Regions from separate parts of the Homo sapiens genome. Here region 2 is linked to region 1. A link means that fine-mapping ties the variant in region 1 to the expression of a gene that starts in the linked region. Tissue or cell type: whole blood. Region 1 holds a variant in brackets; the other region holds the start of a gene. All regions are shown on one strand. Distances are between the middles of the regions.

Evidence for each region. PIP is the estimated chance that this variant, and not a neighbour inherited with it, causes the effect.
Region 2: MIATNB starts here. The variant in region 1 is fine-mapped to the expression of MIATNB in whole blood (Lepik 2017, PIP 0.95).

The regions. Positions count from the first base shown.
Region 1 is chr22:26,720,688-26,731,303 of GRCh38, forward strand. The region is part of intron 2 of MIATNB (MIAT neighbor); the gene reads left to right. Among named protein-coding and RNA genes, the nearest start is that of MIATNB, 53 kb to the left of the region's middle. The variant A/G (reference allele first, on the strand shown) is at 4,714.
Region 2 is chr22:26,667,727-26,677,564 of GRCh38, forward strand. It overlaps MIATNB (MIAT neighbor), which reads left to right and starts at 5,117. Exons shown (of 6, transcript NR_110543.1): 1 at 5,117-5,261. It overlaps MIAT (myocardial infarction associated transcript), which reads left to right. Exons shown (of 5, transcript NR_033320.3): 5 at 432-8,752. RefSeq lists enhancers at 267-850, 851-1,433.

The DNA of each region.
Region 1 (10,616 bases):
GTGAACCCGGGAGGCGGAGCTTGCAGTGAGCCGAGATCGCGCCACTGCACTTCAGCCCGTGTGACAGAGCGAGACTCCGTCTCAGAGAAAAAAAAAAAAAAAAAAAAGAGTTAAGGGGAGAAGGTGACGAGGTAGACAAGATCCTTGGCTGAGACCTTCAGTGAAGGGATGCAGCCAATCCTCAGAGACCCTGGCAGGCAGGAGCAGGGGGAATAAGTACGCTGACTCCATCTCCCCTTCCCCTGATTTCCTTCTGGGCCTCCAGTTGGCAGAACCAAATCGGAAGGCGGAGGGCAAGACAGTCCATTGAAGTCCACATGGGGAGAAGGGTGGAGAGGCAATGTGGGGGTTGCGGGGAGCACCAAAAGAAGATGCCCGACAGAGATGGCTAGCACCCCCGCCCCCACCGCACAACACACTCACGACACACTCACGACACACTCACGACACACTCACGACACACTCACAACACAGGACCAGAGAGCAGATCTCTACTTTCTAAGGATCTTTTCAGGTCTGACCTGCAGATTCTTCCATTTTAAATCAAGGCTAAAATATATTGAGGCTTACTGAGGTCTAGTGGCAGCTCGGAGTTATCAGTGGGTTGGGTAGTGCTTGCTGCTCTGGAACTAATGGCACAATTTTATTGCATTTAGGTCAAATTGTGCCTCAATTCCAATGTCGTATTTTTGGGTCATGGGTCTCCTCTCTCTTTCTTTTCTAAATGTGCCCGAGTATTCCTCCTGGTCCTTTGGGATGCTGACAGAGGAGCAGATATGCAGCATCTCTGCCATGATATAAGGGCTGCTGCAGTGCACAACTGTCTCCCAAGAAGGTACCGCAGGGGTGTAAAACTTCTCCCTGCATTGTCAACGCTGGTCTCCATGGATGTCTGCTGGCTTTTTCAAAAATTCTTGTAGAACAGTGCTTCTCATATGGTGATTTTGTCCCCCTTGCCCCAGGGGGACCTTTGGCCATGTCTTGAGATGTTTTTGGTTGCCGTGATTGAGGAGGTGCTACCAGCGTCTGCTGGGCAGAGACCAGGGATGCTGCTCCACATCCCACAATGCACAGGACAATCTTCTCTACAGCAATGAATTATCCAGTTCACAATCTCAATAGCACCAATATTGAGAAACCCTGTTGAAGATGGAGACTATCCACGGGGCATTGATCTTGGGGTCTCCCCCTTCCTGAATACTTGAAGTCCCTCGGCAGACTCTTGGATACCTCCAGCAATGGGGAGCTCACCACCTGTTTTGAAGCCAGGCAGGTTTGGGCTCTTCTTGTAGCTGTGTGACTCTGGATTTTCCCATAGGTGGGAGTGGATCCACCACCTTGAGCTTCAGTTTCCTCCAGTGCCATGGGATTAGCAGCAGCCCTGCCTCACAGATTGCGTGAGGATGAAATGAGATGATGCTCCTGAGTTGGCTGGTGCAGTGCACGGTACACAGAGAGTGCTCAATAAATGTTCCCTGCTGTGAATGCCCTGTCCTGGTTCACTCGCCTACATTGCGGAGCAGAGGAACTTCAGGGTTTCTTTTGTCTCCAAAATTTCAGGATTCTAGAGAGATGAAGCACTGAGTGAAGAATAATGTGTAGGTCTTTGGGAGAACTTTCCCCTTAGGGGTTGTTCCTCTGCAATGTTTGCTCATGAACATTTTGGGTGAATCATCTCTGTGGGTGTTGGAAGGAGACCTTCTAGCATAGTTTTATGATAGTCTGTGAAGGGAAAATCGGAATTCCTAAAGAAGGAAGCAGTGGGATGTCAGTTAAGTTGGGAAGCTGATGGCTCTCAGGGCCACCATTCATCACATTTCATTGAGGGGCAGCTCTACTTGGCTGCCAAAGGGTGGGCCTGGGACCCAGCAGGGCCTAGCTTGGGAGACTGGGGTTGGTGGGATGCGAGAGGGGGAATGGCCATCCCAGATGTGTCCAAACAGCTGGGTCCAGAGAGCCCTGTACCCCTGGAGGAATTGCTCAGCACTCTCTATCTGCTCCCCCAAATGCATAACTCTGGAGAGTGTAGGGCTTGGAGAAGAAGTATGCGTGGGGCTCAGGCCCAAGTCCATGGACTTTGAGAAATGACGCTTCCCTTCATTCTCATAATTGCTTAAAGCTCTCCTTCTGTGCAGGCTCCATGCTCATTCTCTCATCTGGTTCTATAATTATCCCATTTAGTGGATGAAAAGATTAAGGCCCAGAGAGGTGATGCCCCTTTCTGAGGTCACACGAATGAGAAGGGGCATGGCTGCGACTCATTCCAGGTGGCCGGGCTCCAGAGCCTGCTCCTGTGTCTCCCGCTCTGCTGTGCTGGTTTCTCCTGCAGAGCCTGCCTGTGGCTTGGGTATCAGCATGCACCTCAGCCCTCCTCCATCCATTTCCCCTTAGCCTGGAATCCTCCAATCTACGCGAGAAACCAAATGTTAACAACATTTAATCTCGCCTGGAGATTAGTGATAATTTGTGGCCTCACCAAGGTGGGGAGAGTTATTATTCAAAGTAGATATAAAGTCAGGAATGTAAGATACAAGGCAGTGTGACCAAGGGCATGGAACCTGTGGAGCAGAGGAACATGGCGGGGATGGACAGGCCAGGGGGCCCAGACCTGTGGAAAGGAGTTACTCAACACTTCACATTTACCTGCTATTCCCTAGGACAGGGACCTGTGGGTTTTTGAGGGGCCAGATGGAGGAATGTGGGAAGTGTGGGTTTATGGGGAGGATGTGTTCCCTGAGGAGACAAGAGAACAATGAGAGATGAGAGAGAGAATCCAGGAAGAGATGGAAGAAGGGGAGTAAAGAGGGGAGGGTGAGGGGGAAAAGGAACAGAGGGAAGAGATGATAAATAAAGGTGACCATGACTGCACTGAGCTCCTGTTATGGGATGGATGCTATACTAAACACTTGCATGCATTACCTTGCGTCCTTAGGACAATGTGATAATGCAGATTCATTTATTACCATTCTACAGATCAGAACGTAGATTCAAGTGAGTTTCCCCAAATTCGAGAACTAGCCAGTAACAAAAGCTGTGATTCAAATCCAAGATCAACACACCAGGGGAGAGATTTCTGCTTTTCCCCACTTGTCTTAGTCTGTTTGAGCTGCTATCAGAGAATACCTGAGACTAAGTAATTTACATGCAGAAACTTATTGCTCACAGCTCTGGAGGCTGGGAGGACAACATCAAGGTGCTGGCAGGCTTGGAGATTCTGATTCCAAGATGGTGCCTGGAATGCTGCATCCTCCAAACGTGGGGAACAAAACACTTCATCTTCACATGGCAGAAGGCAAAAAAGAGGCAAAAGGGAGCCAAAGTCATCCTTTATAATGGCATCAATCCAACTCATGAGGGCAGAACCCTCATGACCCATCCACCTCCCAAAGGTCCCATCTCTCACTACTGTTCCCAACAGCAGTTAAATTTCAACACGAGTTTTGGAGGAGACACACATTGAAACCCTAGCACCACTGGAAGGTTTTCTCCTAGGGTGTGTTTGAAGGAGCGTAGGATATGGGGGTGAAGTGACCTGGGTTCAAGTTCCACCCCTGCCTTGTGTGCGCTCACTGGGCAGCAATGGGGCTGATGAAGTTCTCAATGGGGCCAATGGAATTCTCAATGGAGCCAATAAAGCCAGTCCCTGGGAGGTAGCTCCCTGCCTCTTGTGCGCTAGGTAACCTTGGACCTATTCCGTCAACCATCTGAGCCTTATATTCTTCGCCTATTAGAAATAATAACAAGATAAACCTTCACAGGGTAGTTGTGAGGACTAAGTCAGCAGATCCTCGGGAAAGTGGTGTCTACATTTTAAAGTGTTGTGCTTGTGCAAGGGTTTCTATTCATCATCACTGTTTCTGGTTTCTAGAACCTGGGTTTTCCCCAGGCTCCCCGAGGGGCAAGATCAACCCGATAACACATATTACCCTGCAGGTAGCAGCCCTGTATCTGCAGCCCGCTCTCATTTCCACCAGCCGGAGTTGCTACTCATTGTAGCAACCATGTGTTTCTTTCCACTGCTGGAGCCTCTGGTGTCCCCTGCTGCGCCACTGTCCTTGTGCCCTATCATCCCAGACCTGCTTTCTGCCCTCCTGAGACTGCAGGTCTGCATGGATCCCCTAGGTTGCCTTTTCTACTTTGTGTGATTTTTATACTTATAGCTCTCAATATAGTTAATTCTACATGAGACTGTAGGGTCCCATGTCCTGGTTGTCGTACATCTTCTAAATAGGTGGCCACGGTAAAGAGCTTATATGGTTTCTTCACTTGCTCACCATTAACTGATTCACTTATTTATCTCTTTGGTTATTTGTGCATCTATCCATCTAATGGTCATCTCCTTTATTCCAGCAATATTCAACAGACTTTTACTCAGCATTTACTATGTACAGTTGCTGAACAGATAAATACAATAACTGCCTTTTTCTTTTGAGTCAGGGTCTCACTCCGTCACCCAGGCTGGAGTGCAGTGGTGCAATTATGGCTTACTGCAGGCTGGAACTCCCAGGCTCAAGCAATCCTCCCACCTCAGCCTCCCAAGTAGTCAGGACTACAGGGGCAAACCTCTATACCTGGCTATTTTTTTTTCATTTTTTATCTTTTATAAAGACAGTGTCTTTCTGGGTCATCCAGGATTGTCTTGAACACCTAAGTACCATTTTTAAAATGTGGTAAGATACATATAACAGGAATGTCACCATTTTAACCATTTTT[A/G]AGTGTACAATATAGTGGCTTCAATTACATTCATGATGTTGTGCAACCCTTACCACTATCTGTTTCCAAATCTTCACCCCAAACAGAAACTCTGTACCCATTAAGCAACAATTTCTCATTCCTCCTTACCACCGCCCCCCCCAGTCCCTGGTAACCTCCAATTTACATTCTATCTCTGCAAATTTGCCTATTCTAGATATTTCATGTAAGTGGAATCATACAGTATTTATCTTTTGTGTCTGGCTTATTTCACTTAGCGTAATATTTTCAAGGTTCAACCATGATGTAGCATATACCAGGACATCATTCTTTTTATGGCTTAATAATATTTAATCGTATGTATATATCACATTTTACTTACCCATTTATCTGTCAATGGACACTTGAGTCATTTGCACCTTTTAGCTATTATGAATAATACTGCTCTGAACATTTGTGTACAAGTATCTGTTTGAATGACTATTTCCAATTCTTTTGTGTGTATACCTAGAAGTGGACATTCTGGGTCATAGCATAAATCTATGTTGAAATTTTCGGGGGACCAATAGCTGCCATTTGTCAGCACTTACGATGAGTCAGACATTGAGTTTTATACTTTATTCACAATGTAATCTAATCCTATGATAGCCCCTCAAGGAACTTATCATCATCCCTCAGATGAAGACACTGAGTTGAAGAGAGTGTATCAGCCAACTATTGCCGAGTAACAAACCACCCCCAAATCCAGTGGTTCACAGCAGCCATCACTTATTCTTGCTCACACATTTGCAAGTTGGCTTAGGGCTGGTTTGTCAAGGCTGGGCTCTGCATGGGGAGCTCGGCTGAGGTGGCTCAGCTCCACATGCTTCTGAACCTCCTGGGAGCAGAAGGCTGGCCTGAGAATGTTCTTCTTAAGGCAGGAGTGCAGGAGAATGGATTAAAGCCTGCAACACATCTTTTAAAACAGGCATCCTGTCACTTACTCCTCATTCTATTATCTAAAGCAAGTCTTATGCCCAAACCCACAGTCAAAGGGCAGGGAAATATGCTCTGCTCCTTTAGTGGGATAAATTGCAAAGTCACATGGCAAAGAACACAGACAAAGGAGGGAATAAAGAGCTGGGGCCAATAATATGACCTAGCACAGGGATATTCATGATTCTCCTAAGATCAGAATGTGTGTGGGCTAGGGCCAGAATTCAACCTGAAGCCACTGGGCTCCAACTCCCAAACTGTTCTGATTTTATCTCTTTGCTTTACAAAGACAGAACACTGAAGATTCTGCTCTCAGGGTGTTGATTGACGTCTGGAAGGCAGAGACTCGTGGATTAGCAAGCATGTGTAAGAAAGTGCTCTGGATGCCACAGGGTGGTAATTTGTGCATGGAAAATGGCTGGGGTGAAGAGGAGACTAGGGTAAGTTCCACCTGAGGATGGAGAATGTGAAAGAAAGTTTTCCTAGGGGGCTGGTCTTTGAGTGGAATCTTGAAAGTTGGAGGAAGGGGAAGGAAAGGGTGTGCTGGGCTGAGGGAGTAGAGGGACAAAGGCCTGAAGGTTGGTAAGGTGATGGTGAGCTTGGGGGTTTACATGCAGTTCAATAAGATTGGAACAGATTTTCCAGGGGTGGGGTGAGGGTACAGAAGTGTGAGCAGTGTCAGCAGTTTGGAAGGGTCTTGGAAAGGGATATCCAGAAAATAACTTCAGATCTTTGTACAAATGAGAAAACAGAGGTTCAGAAGGTTGATGGATGAGCCAACAGCCTCAAGGAGACTGCTGAGTATGTGGACTTGTGCCCCATCTCCTAGGGGAGAAGCTCTTTGGATGACCTATTAATAGTATGAGAGGTGTGTGTTAGTCCATTTTGCATTGCTATAAAGGAATACCCAAGGTTGCGTAATTTATAAACAAAGGAGGTTTATTTTGGCTTACAATTCTGGAGGCTATACAGGAGGGATGGCGCCAGCATCTGCTTCTGGGGAGGACCTCAGGAAGCTTCCAATTATGGCAGAAGGTGAAGGGGGAGCAGGCATGTCACAAGATGGAGCAAGTGAGAGTGGGAAAGAGGTGTCAGTCCCTTTTAAAACAACCAGATCTTGTGGTAACTCATTACCATGGGGAGGGCACCAAGCCATTCATGAGGCTTCCACCCCTATGACATAAACACCTTCCACTAGCTCCACCTCCAACATTGGGGATTACATTTCAACATGAGATTTTCAGGGGAGAGGCAAATATCCAAACTATATCAAGGTGTATGATGCATAGCAAAGGAGACAATGCCCAAGGCGTGATAGCCGGGGGACTTGGTGGGCACTGGATGGAGGATTTGGAGGCCCAGATTGGAGAGCAAAAGGAAGAACTTGAGATTGAGTGTCTTAGTTCGTTTTCTGCTGCTCTAACAGAATACCTGAAACCCAGCAATTTGTAAAGAACAGAAATGTATCCTTTTACAGTTCTGGAGGCTGGAAAGTCCAAGATCAATATGCTGGTACCTGGTGTGGGCCTTCTTACTGCATCTTCACATGGCAGAAGGTGGAAGGGCAAGAGAGGGGTGAACTCTGTGTCCTCACATGGCAGACAAGCAGAAGAGAGTGAATACACTTTAGCAAACCCTTTTCATAGTGGCATTAATCTATTCATGAGGGTGGAGCCCCACCTCCCAAAACTGCTGCATTGGGGATTAAGTTTCAACATGATTTTGGAGAAGACAAAACATTCAAATCATAGCAATGAGTGTAGGACGCAAGCCAGGTAACCTCACTGTATCAGTGAGCAGTTGTACCCTCACTGTATCAGACCAACGTTGGCTACAAATTTCCTGCTGCAAAACATGAGCTCTCAAATGGAAAAGAAATGAAGATAGTTCATGCCTTGTCACATGCAACAAAAACGTTGCTTTATTTTGTCTGGGAAGAGCAGAGAGCCACTGAAGGATTTTGAGCAGTGCAGCGATGGAGATAGGTTTTGAAGGTCATTTTGGGACTGGAGCATGAGGCAGCAAGACAGCAGAAAGTCACCAAGTGGGGTCCAAGCTGATTCCATTGGCTTATTAGTGAAGGGCTCTAATCCTGCCAGGGGCTGGTGCCACAGAGTTGTGCCACATGTGACAAAGGACATGCTCCCTGAGCCAATCTCTGGACTCTGCAAGTTCAGTGCTTAGGGTCAATCACTCATTCCAGAAATGTTTATTGAGCACTTACTTTGTGCCAGGCACTGTGCTAGAACTCGAGGTGGACACAACCATGAGCAAAGAGGCAAACAAATCTATGCCATCATGGAGCTTGCAGTTTGAAGAGTTCCTCAACTGGGGCAAACCCAGTGATTGTTTCTCAATTCCTTCACTGTTTGTTCAGCTCCCTTGACAGCTGGTCCATTCCGTCTCAGGCTATACCTAGCACACAGTGAAAGGAGAAGGGCACCAGACCACAAGGTTTCTGTTATGATCCTGGTCTTGAATATCATGACCTGAAGAAACCTTTACTTTTATTATTATTATTACTTATTTATTTTATCTTTATTTTTATTTTTTTGAGATGGAGTCTCGCTCTTGTCATCCAGGCTGGAGTGCAGTGGTGTGATCTCAGCTCACTGCAACCCCCCCCTTCTGGGTTCAAGCGATTCTCCTGCCTCAGCCTCCCAAGTAGCTGGGATTACAGGCACTTGCCACCACGCCCAACTATTTTTTTTTGTATTTTTAGTAGAGACAAGGTTTCACCATGTTGGCCAGGCTGGTCTCAAACTCCTGACCTCAGGTGATCTGCCCCTCTTGGCCTCACAAAGTGTTGGGATTACAGGTGTGAGCCACCGCACCCGACCTGTTTTTATTTTTATTTTTTAATTTAGTTTTTTGGGACAGAGTCTTGCTCTGTCACCGAGGCTGGAGTGCAGAGGCACGATCTCAGCTCACTGAAACCTCTACCTCCCGGGTTCAAGCCATTCTCCTGCCTCAGCCTCCTGAGTAAGCTGGGTCTACAGGCATGTGCCACCATGCCTGGGTAATTTTTGTATTTTTATAGAGATGGGGTTTCACCATGTTGGCCAGGGTGGTCTCAAATTCTTGACCTCACGTGATCCACCTGCTTCAGCCTCCCAGAGTGTTGGGATTATAGGCGTGAGCCACCATGCATGGCCAGAAGGGACCTTTAAACCCCTAGAGTACACACACATCTTTGCAGCTGGGAAAACTAAAGCCTAGAGTGGCCAAGTAGCTTGCTCAAGAGCACACGGCATTAGAGATAGGGCGGGGAAAAGAGCTCTTTCCACTATTTAGTCTTTTAATATATTTTTGTTTGTTTTCACTGGTAATTATTGAGTGTCCACTGTGTGTGAGGTCTTGGAAACGCAGATATGAATAAGTCGCAAGGAGTCCCTATGCCCTTGAAGCCTCACCATCTAGTCTAGTGTAGTCCAGTGTAACTTTCAGGGTGATAGAATCATTCCATGTGGTAGCCACAAACCAAATGTGACTGCTGCAACTGAAATGTGCCTGGTGCAACTGAGGAAGTCTTAACTTTATCTCATTTAAATTAATTTAAACTTAGGCATCCACATTTGGTCAGTGGCAGCTGTGTTGGACATTGCAAGTCTAGTCTATGGTCACATGACCTCACACACACACACATTGATATTGTTTGGCTGTGTCTCTACTCAAATCTCATCTTCAATTGTAGTTCCCATAATCCCCACGTGTCGTGGGAGGGACCTGGTGGGAGGTAATTTAATCACAGGGGCATTTACCCTCATGCTGTTCTGGTGATAGTGAGTGAGTTCTCACTAGATCTGATGGTTTTATAAGGGGCTTTTCCCCCTTTGGCTTGGCACTTCTTTGTCCTGCCACCCCGTGAAGAAGGACATGTTTATGTCCCCTTCCACTATGATTGTAAGTTTCCTGAGGCCTTCCCAGCCCTGCAGAACTGAGAGTCAATTAAACCTCTTTCCTTTATAAACTACCCAGTCTCCAGTATGTCTTTATTAGCAGCGTGAGAACAGACTAATACACACAGTCATGAACTGTGATGAGTGCTGTGATAGATCAGAACCACTACATTGTGGGTCCGCAGGACCACTGACAGGTTCCATGAGTGATTTCAAGTTCTTTACTAGAAGGACTCCCAGAACTCAGAAGACCTGTTATCCTCATGGTTATGGTTTATTACAACAAAAGGATTCAGATTAAAATCTGCCAAAGAAAAAGGTGCATAGGGCAGGGTCCAGGAGAGACTTCCAGTTGTCCTCTCCCAGTGGAATCTTACAAACATGCTTAATTCTCCCACCAATGATGGGTGACAACATGTATCGAGTGTTGCCAACCATGGAAACTCACCTGAGCCTTGGTGTTCAGGGTTTTAATTGGAGGTCAGTCACATAGGTGTGGAGTTACCTATGGAATGACCTTAATTACTTGGTCACCAGCCCCTCCAGAAGTCAACGTGATATAATCACATGGTTACATAGATTGTCTGGCCTGGTTTGGCCCAAGTGCCCAGGTATACAAAGACACTTGAGTTAGGGAGGATACTGCAAGAGCTTAGAGTTACTCTCCCAGCAGTCAGTCAGGTGCTTTCTTTGGAACATGCAGGGTGTGAACACCGTAAGTCTGCTAAGTTAACCCTTTAATGCACACTAGGAATCTATTGGGGAAAATGACGGGGGCTTTGAAGCTTGGAGATTTAGAGAAGGTGTTGCTTGTTGCTGACCATTTCATCTGAGTAAGTTATCACCCTTCTCAGTGGCATGCTCCTACCATTTGACTTATTGTAATTTATAATTTTTCTATTTATCTGCTTGTTTACTTGCTTTTATCTGCCTCGTTTGCTAAACTAAGAGCTCCAGGAGGGTAATTTGTGTGTCTGTTTAGTTTCCTCAGTTTTCCCAGGCCTTAGCATGCTTAGTGTGCTGCTTTGCAGGGCCAACACTAGGAAATGA
Region 2 (9,838 bases), 53 kb before region 1:
AGAGTACAGTGTTATGATCACGGCTCACTGCAGCCTTGAACTCCAGGGCTCAATACATCCTCCCACCTCAGCCTCCTGGGTAGCTGGGACTACAGGTGCATGCTACCATGCCTGGCTTATTTTTTGTAGAGACAGAGTCTCATTATGTTGCCCAGGCTGGTCTCGAACTCCTGGGCTCAAGTGATCCTCCTTCCTCAGCCTCCCAAAGTGCTGGGATTACAGGTGGGAGTCACTGTGCCTGGCCTAAGTTTCTTCTAAAAATGTTTCATGTCCAAAACCCTCACTTCCACCCTGTGTGTGTGCTGGGGGCATGAGAGACTGGGGGGATCTCTGAACATGAGTCCCCTCAGATGCAGAATTAGGCTGGGGGGATGTGGGAAGTTGGGGATGGAGGCTGTGGCCTCATCCTCACTCGCTGTCTTCTCCCCCAGGTGGCTCCATCTGGGCCGCATCTCCAGGACTCCTGGCCTGGACTTCTCTTTGGACCTCGGGTGACCTTGGATTCTGGCCACAGTGACTTAGCGGTCAGACTCCGGTGGTTTTCTAGCCCGCTGGGTGACTCCCTGAAGATCTCATCCTCTTCACACCTGTTGGGATGGAGCCTCCCATGGATAGGAACTCTTCCTGGTTGATGCTCAGCAGATGACTGATCTGGCTCTGGAGGACAGCTCCAGGGGTATGAGGGAGGCCTGGCAGCCCACTACTCCCTCCTCACCTGCTCGGGCCCTGCCTGCTGGGCCCTATTGTCTGGGTCTGGGGGCCCTTTCCTGCCCCATGTGAACTTGATTCCTCCTCGCGTTTCTGCCGGTGACCAGACAGAGCCTGGCCTGGGCCAAGTCCCCACTGACCACACTTTCCCCAAGGCTGGGTCTCAAAGGACCCTACAGGATGGGGACAGGAACAAGGATGGGAGTCGGGGAGGGGCTGTCAGGCAGAGGGCAGATGCAGCTCCTCGGGTGCCGCTGGCTGGAGTCCTTTGTCTCCATTTGCTCAGTGCGTAATTGTCATTTTGTGGGGGACTTCCTTGGTGGGGCTTTTCCATGCTTTTCCTCTCCCTGATGGTTACAAAGAGGAGACAGTCAGGATCTGGGAGGAGCTGGAGCCTTCCCCCTGTGCTGTTGAACTCTGGGAGGGGCAGCCAGAGGGGCTGAGAGTGCACCATCCTGAAAAGAGAGGGTCTTTAAGAGATAAGATTTAGGCTAGGGAAATTCACTAGAAAGAGACAGGTGGCCCTGGGTTTTTTTTCCTGCCATCCAAAGGGAACCAGTCTTACCCAAAGGCTTAAGGGGTCACCTTAGCCCAGTCTCAGGACACTCTTCTCCAATCAGATCGCTGCTTCTAGTTGCACTGCTCCTGGATTCTGTTCTTGGGGAACAGAAGGTGGCAGGACAGGCCCCACAATCTGCAATTCCAGCTCCCTCCAGAGGAGACAGTCCCAGCGTTTGCAAGAGAGCAGCTTGTGGCCTCCCTTAGGCAAGTTTAAAAGCCAGATGTCCTTTTTCCCAGAATGCGGAGTGGTGTGTACTATTCATCAGCTTGGGCTGCCACAGCACCATGCCAGACTGGATGGCTTAAACATCAGGAATTTATTTTCTGCCAGTTCTGGAGGCTGGAAAGTCCAGATCAAGGTGTTAAGACTTGGTTTCTGGTGAGGCCTCTCTCCTTGGCTTGCAGGTGGCACCTTCTCACTATGTCCTCACATGGCCTTTTCTCTGTGGAGAGGGACAGAGAGCATGAGCAGGCTCTGGTGTCTCCTCCTCTTCTTATAAAGACACTAATATCACCATATTAGGGCTTAAACCTATGACCTCATTTAACCTTAACCCCTTAAAGGTCCCATCTCCAAAAACAGTCACATAGCAGGCTACTGCTTCAACATATGCATTTGGGGGAGGGGACACCATTCAGTTCTTAACAGGGTGGTCACCGCAAACATGGAAAGTCAGAGCCTTCTCCCCTTCAGAATTCCCGCCCCCACCCAGGGATGGGGAGGAGGAGCAGAGAGGTATGGGAAGCAGACACGGAGAGTGGCAGGTACCATGCTGGGGTGGCTCAGGAGTGCTTCGGAGGACATATGGAACTGGCAGGGCTCAGTGCAGGGAGGCGGAGGCCCTGGGAGAGCCGTGTCCTGAGAAGGGCCTGGGCTACAACCCTGGGCAAGTTACTTCACCTCTGAGCCTCCGATGCTCTGTGAAATGGAAGGAATGTGCTTGCCTGTCAGGTGCAGGGAGAATTCAGTGAGATTGTGTGCCTAGCACAGTGCCTGACTCCCAGTAGGTGCTCAGCAAATGCTCCCATCCATCTGGGAGTATAGACTTAGGGTTTATCTATTTTTTTTTTTTTTTGGCTCTCTGGACTTTAAAACTCAGCATCTTCTGAACCAGAGGCATTTCTGATTAGCCCTTCCCTACCTATTTTCCTAGTATCACTCTTTAATCAGCTTGGGGAGGTGGCAGCATTTCATGGCCTCCGTAGTAACTCACAATGCTTCCTGGGGTATTTAAATTCTACTCTCTCATCAGCACTGAGCACCTACTTTGGGCCCTTTCCCGTGCTAGCCATTTGGGGGAAATATAGGTGAAGAGTGGCTGGGGTTTGAACCTTTAGGATTTCACAGCCATGCTGGATGGGATAAAACCAGCTCACATGGAGAATCAGAGAATGGGACAGTGCCACAAAACAGTCTACTGAGGCACAAGTTCTGAGTGCCTGGGAAGTGGTAGAGAGACCCCAGAGAGGGCTGCTGCAGTCTGGAACAGCTTCCTAGCAAGCTGTACCAAACAGGGCCTTGAAGGATGAGAAAGATCTGGCTGAGATGATACCCGACCCTCTAGGGAAATTCTTAAAGTAACTTCTAGGAAATGTCATTGCTCCTTAAAAAAAAAAAAAAAAAAAAAAAAGCAGGTTCTAATTCAAATTCCGCTGCACTACTGAAGTAGTGCAGGACTTATCAGAACCTTTAAAATGCTAATGGCAATTTCAAATACTCAGGGACAGGGCATAGGATGAAGTGTTCCTTGACTTTTATGGCCGTAGAATCTTTTTCTCATGGAACATCGTTTAGAACTGTGGGAGATGCTAGGCTGGGGTTTCTATGGGAAAAGTACAGCAGTGATAGAAGATGGCATAATTAGGGTACACTTAGGTGCTTTGTAGCATTGGCTGAAAAGGAAGCAGACCGGGTGGGCGTGGGGGAGTCTCAACTTGGTTCCAGGAGCCAGGCCAGCTTGATGCGTTTTTTTTTTTTCTAATGGTGGGAGGGCAGGCCAATAGTTGGAGAAACTAGAGGCCTGACAGTCGGTGATGGAAGAGATGTCTACTAAGCACGGTTGTCAGATCTTTTGCGGAGAGATGCGGGTGTGCGTGTGTCTGTCAGAGTGTAACAGGATCCAGCCCTCTGGGAAGGGGCTGACCAGAACCAGGCAGGGGGTTTCTGTCTAGGACAAGTAGGGTCCATTTTCAGGGGAGCTGAAATATTTGCAGGGGGTGCTCTGAGACCCACAGCCAATAAATAGGGAAGCAACATGCTTTTGGGCAGGGTCCATGTGGTTAGGGTTGATTTTGATGGGGCTGGGGGGCTTAGAGTTAGACCCCCTGCCCTGGTCAGGCCCCACTCCCTGGCTGGTGGGGGCGGGAGGCCTCTGAAGCTGCAGCTGGAGGGGCCGGGGCAGTGTTGCATGGTGTGATTAACCTACTAACCCAGGGCTCAGCCGGGACGCTGTGGCGTGTGACGAGGTGCCTGGCCTTCTGCCAACCAACTAACCCACTAACCAGGCCCGAGCATGCCCTACTAACCACCCCCCCGCAGCCAGATCCTACTAACTGTGCAGCTCATGGGCCTTTCAAGGGGCTGGGATATGGGGGCAGCCAAGGCTCCAGAAGGCTCTGCCTATGGGCTGGGATCTTTGTGCAGACCCACGTTCCAGGACAGAGAATGCAAATAAGACTCACCAACTCTGCCACTTCCTGTTGAGTGAGTTTGAGTAAGTCACCTCACTTCTCTCAACCTCAGTTTCCTCAGTGGTAGAATGCGAGTTCTGATACCTTACAGGTTGCAGTGAGGATTCCCGTCAATATAAGGGTCTCAGCACATGGCAGACACCTAAAAAAAAAAAAAGTATGAGGATGGAGGAAGGCCCCTCAAACCTGGTTGAACACGTCTGCTGCCTAGGCCCTGGCCTCTCTGGGTGTTCTGCACACAGATCCTTCTGCCTGGGGCAAGACACTTGGCTTTGAATCCATGTCACTTCCCCACATTCTTCCTCCGTCTCAGCTTTCTTTTCTGTAGGCAGCTCTTTTGTTCGATTACTAACCCGTCTAACCCCTGGGGTGCCTCAACTGCACCCCGATCATCCCTTAACAAACTAACGGACCTGCGTGCGTTCTTCCTTTTCTCTTAGCGACTCCTGTGTGTGTCTGCTGAGGTGCCCTGTCCGCTGGTGCTGTGCTCTGACTTACTAACCCAGCCCCTACTAACCCTGTTTTCTCTTCTTACTAACCCCAGCCCTGCCGAGCTCTGGGCTCCCCCCGGGGGCTGGTCCCCCTCCTTTTGGCAAGCAGATGACCTGGGGCTACTGGCCCTGTAGACAGATGTCCCACTTTGCTGCCCCATATTGGCTGTAAGATCAGAGTCCACTGGGCCAGGTCTAAGGCAGGGGATGGCCCTATTAACAAGACTCAGAGGAGGAAGAGGTGGTCCTGTGGATGTGGGAGGCTGGACTCTGAGTATGACATCTCTCCTATGTGCAGAAGTCTGGTTGCCACTGGGAGTAGGTGGGACCAGGGAAATCTCTGGGACGTGAGTGTGGAGGCCTGTTGGTCTAGACTCTAGACTGTGGAGCTCTGAGCTTTTGTGTCCTCTGGAAGGAAGCTGGGGAAGAATCCTCTCCATTGTTAAGTGACGGGGATAGAAGCTGTCCTGCACAGGAAGTCACGAGGGGGGCGTATCCCACGAGGAAGGCAGGAGGGGGCGTGCCCCTCACCGGAAATTAGCAGAGGGGCGTGTCCCACACCGGAAGTCAGAAAGCGGAGCCTTTCTTACACCGGAAGTCAATGAAGCGGGTCTTTCCTACGCTAAAAACCACTGAGTGGAGTATTTAGTACACAGGAAGTCGGCCAGAGAAACATTTCTCATATTTGAAGGCCGGAAAGAGGGACATTTCTGACACCGGAAGTCAGTGAGAGGACTCTTTCCCACACAGGAAGTCAGCTAGAGAGCCGTCTCCCCTCTCTGGAGCCGAGAGAGGCCGGTTTCCCCCACCGTAAGTAGACGTGGGGCCGTGACCGGAAGTCCTTGGGAAAGATCCGTCCCATTCCCGGAAGCTAGAGGGCGTTAGTTGTCGGGTTGAAAAGGGGTGTGGGGAGGGGAAGCAGCTTTACCCCGGGCTCGGAGTTTGCAGGAGAGAGAAGTGGGGAGCAAGAAGTGAACCTCAGGGGCTCACAGGGTTCCCGCAGATGCTCAGGCCGGCCAGGAATGCATCTCTGGCTCTCTGTTCCCACGGACGTCACTGCCTCAGCCAGCCTCCCCCAGAGCCCGCCAGCCGCTAAGCCGGGGCCACACCTGGGGGTGATTTCATGCCTCACCTCCAGTAGGCACCTTGGTTTCTTTGGGCTAATCTCTGGCTCCCTTGCGCTAACTCTTGCTCTCACCCAGCTAATCCCTGCCTCACCCTGACTGCCCCAGGGGCTGACCACTAACAACCAACCTGGCCCTGTCTGGGGGTTCCAGGCTCCTGGCCTGGCCCTGACCGGTTCTTAATTAACCTTTCCTTCACCTTGACTAACTCCTGCCTTCCTGGTCTGTTCCTTTCAGCAGAAACTAATGGTTTGTGGATTTTTTTCTGACTAACAACAGGTCTAACATTCCTCGTTACTGTTAACAGCTTGGATGTCGGCATGGCTGGGAAGGGGCTAACACAGCTTTGAACTTGGCTAACACAGGTTTGAACTTGGCTAACACAGGTTTGAACTTGACTAACACAGGGAAAAGCATAGCTAACAATTTTGGGCGTGGTGGCTGCTCTGAGTCAGAACAATCAGAAGTCGGTAAAGATGGTAGTTTTCTAAAGGAGGTGCCAGGGCTCTGGTGTGGACCAGGCCTGATGGAGCAGTGGTACCCACCAAGGTGGGGTCAGAAGTATAGCCAGTCTTGCAAGGTTTTGGCCATTGGGCATATCTTCACTCCTCATAGTCTGCATTTGGTTTCAGTTCTTAAAAAAATATAGCCTTATAGCTACAGTAGTTTGCACAAGTAGATGCAGCTCTTATAAACCTTAAAATACCTGTCTGGTGTCTACAGAGCATATGCCATTTTGTATAGAGTCACCCTTCCCCAGGCCAGGGCCTAGAGTCTTCATTTTGGGGACTTTGTGTTTTGGAAGTTCTAGGACATAAAGCTTTAGATCAGAGTATTCAGAAGGGTTATAACTCCGTCAGTCATTTACATGTTAGTAGTATAAATTATCTGAGCTTCCTGTTCTAACTTTTAGCTCTTCTAGCATAAACTCTTCTGTGCAATTTAGCTGCACCGAGGAAACGGGAGTTTTTCTGGAAGGGACTTTTGATCTCTTTAGACTGAGGGAACGTCCTTTGGGAGTAGAGGGGCAGGGAGCATACGCAAGGGATTCCAGGTGCAGGTAAAAGGTGGCACTAGTTCAAGGTTTTGCTGACTCAGTCTGGTAGTCAGAGTCTGCAGGAGAAGACAGTTCAAGGCAGGGCCTGGAGGATTGGATCAGTTTAGGGACAGGTCAAAGGCTGGCTTACAGACCTTAGAGGCAGGTTGCTTGGGTCGTTGAATGCTAGTCTGGTGCTGAGAGCCCTTTTCTCTGGCAACTGTGGACTCAGAGCTAACCAATTGTAGTTGGCAGTGGGGGTGAAGGGTGATCCAGAGGCCTGAGCTGCAGAGGGCACAAGAGAGAAAAGATGTCTTAGAAAGAGCTTTGAGAACATGCCTTGGCTGCTGGCAGGGACCTTGGATGGGGTAGTCTACACCCGGAAGTGCCTGCCTGCCATCCTCTAGTGGCTGCCTTGCTCCATTTCACTCAAAGCAGGAAGCTCACACCTCCTATTCCTGAAACTCCTCTTTGTTTAACTGCAAAGACTTGATGCTGCTAAGGATCTACTATGTGCCAGGCACTGCTCTGGGCGCTGGGACCTGCACCTGGGCTTTTTCGTCATGGTGCTTTTATAGCCTAGTGGGAGAGTTGGTGAAGTAGATAGTGATTCAGTGAGATGGGTGTTATGATTGGTCAGGGGTCTGTGGGAGCACCAAGGAGACAGACAAGATTGATGTGCACCTACTCTGTGCCAGGCGTGTGCCAGGCATTGGGGATGTAGTGGTAGTTAAACACCATTTGGTCTTCAGGAGCTTTAATTCTAGTGTGTTGGGTGCAGGGGGGTGGAATGGGGACAGAGAGACACCTAATCCACCCTGTGGTGGCTTTCTGGAGAGGGAGGCATCTAAGCTGAGCTGTGGCTGGGTGGAGTGTGGGTGGGGATGAGTTCCGGGCAGCGAGAGTGGTGGACACCAGTTTCTGGGGATCAGAGAGGATCCAAAGAGGTTCTGGAAGGTTCATGTGGAATGTAGCAAGAGATAGGAGACATGGACATGGTGCCGGGTCTGGTTGCCAAGAAGTTTAGATTTTATCCTTAGGCCTTGGGGAGCGACGGATATGATCTGAGAAAGGGAGTTAGTGGATTTGAGTTTTAGGCTGGCCATTTGGCTTTTCCAGCCCAGGTGGAACTCAGAGGAGTTTGCAATGGCCTCTGGCCACATTTTAGACAACTGAGCAGAACTTTTTGAAACTAGGAAGACCCTTTGGTCCATCTTTTGATAAACAGAATCCATACATGTCTACCCCAGTTGGAAGTATCTCTGCAATGACTGGAAAGTAAAGAGGACCAAGGTGAAAATAAAGGCTCGGAAGGGGAGCAATCTTGAAAACATGTCATCCCATGGTGGTGGGAAGTCCCTGGAGAAGATCAGGGGAAACACAGTCATAGGCTGCAAGTCTATAAGATAATTCCATTGGGGAGGGAGCCCATTTGTCATGCATGGCTGCAAGGGGCAGATACAAGTGTGGAGTAAGCTTGCAAGAGCTGATCCTGGTCCCAGAGAGGGAAAAATATGCCTTGGTGGGTAATGAACCTTTTGTTCCCAGAGGCAGAAGGATTGGGACTAGGCCAACATAGAGATTGGCGATGGTTGTGAGATTCTAAGAGTGTGTGTGCATCTTGACAATATTAGAGGAGGCTGAGCCCAAGCAGGCACATTCTCTTCGACCCCTCCCTCATTCAGTCTGCTTTGGAGTCTACTGAACATCAAGCTTGCTATGAGCAGGATCTTAGAGCTGAGGAATTGGCCTCCCAATCCGAACAGGTGTTATAATCCTTTCTTAATAGGTTGTGCTGTGGACCCAATGTGAGGGCTGTGCTGGTGTAAATGGTGACATGTTGAGCTGGGGGGATGCTTTCGGGGTGGGGGGACTGGTTCCATTCCATCAAAGGCCCTCTTGAGAGTCTATCCAGGGACCCATTGTTTTACTTTAACAGACCAGAAAAGATGTTTGTTTTCCATGTCATTACCCCCAGGGGATACCGAATGTGTGGGTAGAAATTTCTCTGTAGATTAAAAATCAGATTTTTACATGGATTCAACAAAGGAGCGTCACTTGGATTTTTGTTTTCATCCATGAATGTAGCTGCTTCTGTGTAAAATGCCATTTTGCTATTAAAAATCAATTCACGCTGGAAACATGACTGTGGCCTATGAAGCAGAAGGGACGTGCTGTTTAGGGGAGAGGGGGCAGCCAGTGGCATTCTCAAGGAGCAGGGGTGGGCTCTCTCGGTGAGTCAGCCTTTCCTCAAGAGTGACCCTAGAAGTCAATATAATAGGGTATTTTATTTTTTAATTTTGGTAAAATAATCATAACATAAAACTTCACCACCATAATAATTTCTAAGTGAACATCTTGGTGGTATCATTCACATTGTTGTGCAACCATTATCACCATTGGTATTTATTTTTCTTTTCTTTTTTTTAGAGATGAGGTCTTGCTATGTTGCCCAGGCTGGCTTTGATCTCCTGGTCTCAAGCGATCCTCTTGCTTCAGCCTCTTGAGTAGCTGGGACTGCAGGCGTGCACCACTGTGCCTGGTGGTATTTTTAAAAAATAACACTTCTTTATGCCTAGGGCAGTGCTTCCAGAAATCCAGGTTCTTATTGCCAGGGAATTTGTTTATTTTATTATTATTTTTTTTTTGAGATGGAGTCTTGCTCTGTTGCCCAGACTGGGGTGCAGTGGCGCGGTCTCGGCTCACTGTAAGCTCTGCCTCCTGGGTTCACGCCATTCTCCTGCCTCAGCCTCCTGAGTAGCTGGGACTACAGGCACCCACCACCACGCCCGGCTAATTTTTTGTATTTTTAGTAGAGACGGGGTTTCACCGTGTTAGCCAGGATGGTCTCGATCTCCTGACCTCGTGATCTGCCCGCCTCGGCCTCCCAAAGTGCTGGGTTTACAGGCTTGAGCCACCGCGCATGGCCTGCCAGGGATCTTATACTTCACTGGGGAGTCAAAGAGTTCCTTGGTGACAGAGAAAAAGATAGAGTTTAGTGTGTGATCGTGAAGGACTGGCAAATATAAGCCACACACATCGCCACTCTTCCCTTCAGCATCCTTGACAGACATTGCAAGTTGATTGCCTATCTCTCTTTGGGAACTTGGGTGCATTTTCAGGCTCTTTCTCAGAACAGTGTTCTGGGTAGCCAAGTTTTAAAAGAACTTTGGAGTCAGTCTTAGGATTGAGACTACTGATAATCCTCAGTTTGAATCCCAGCTTTG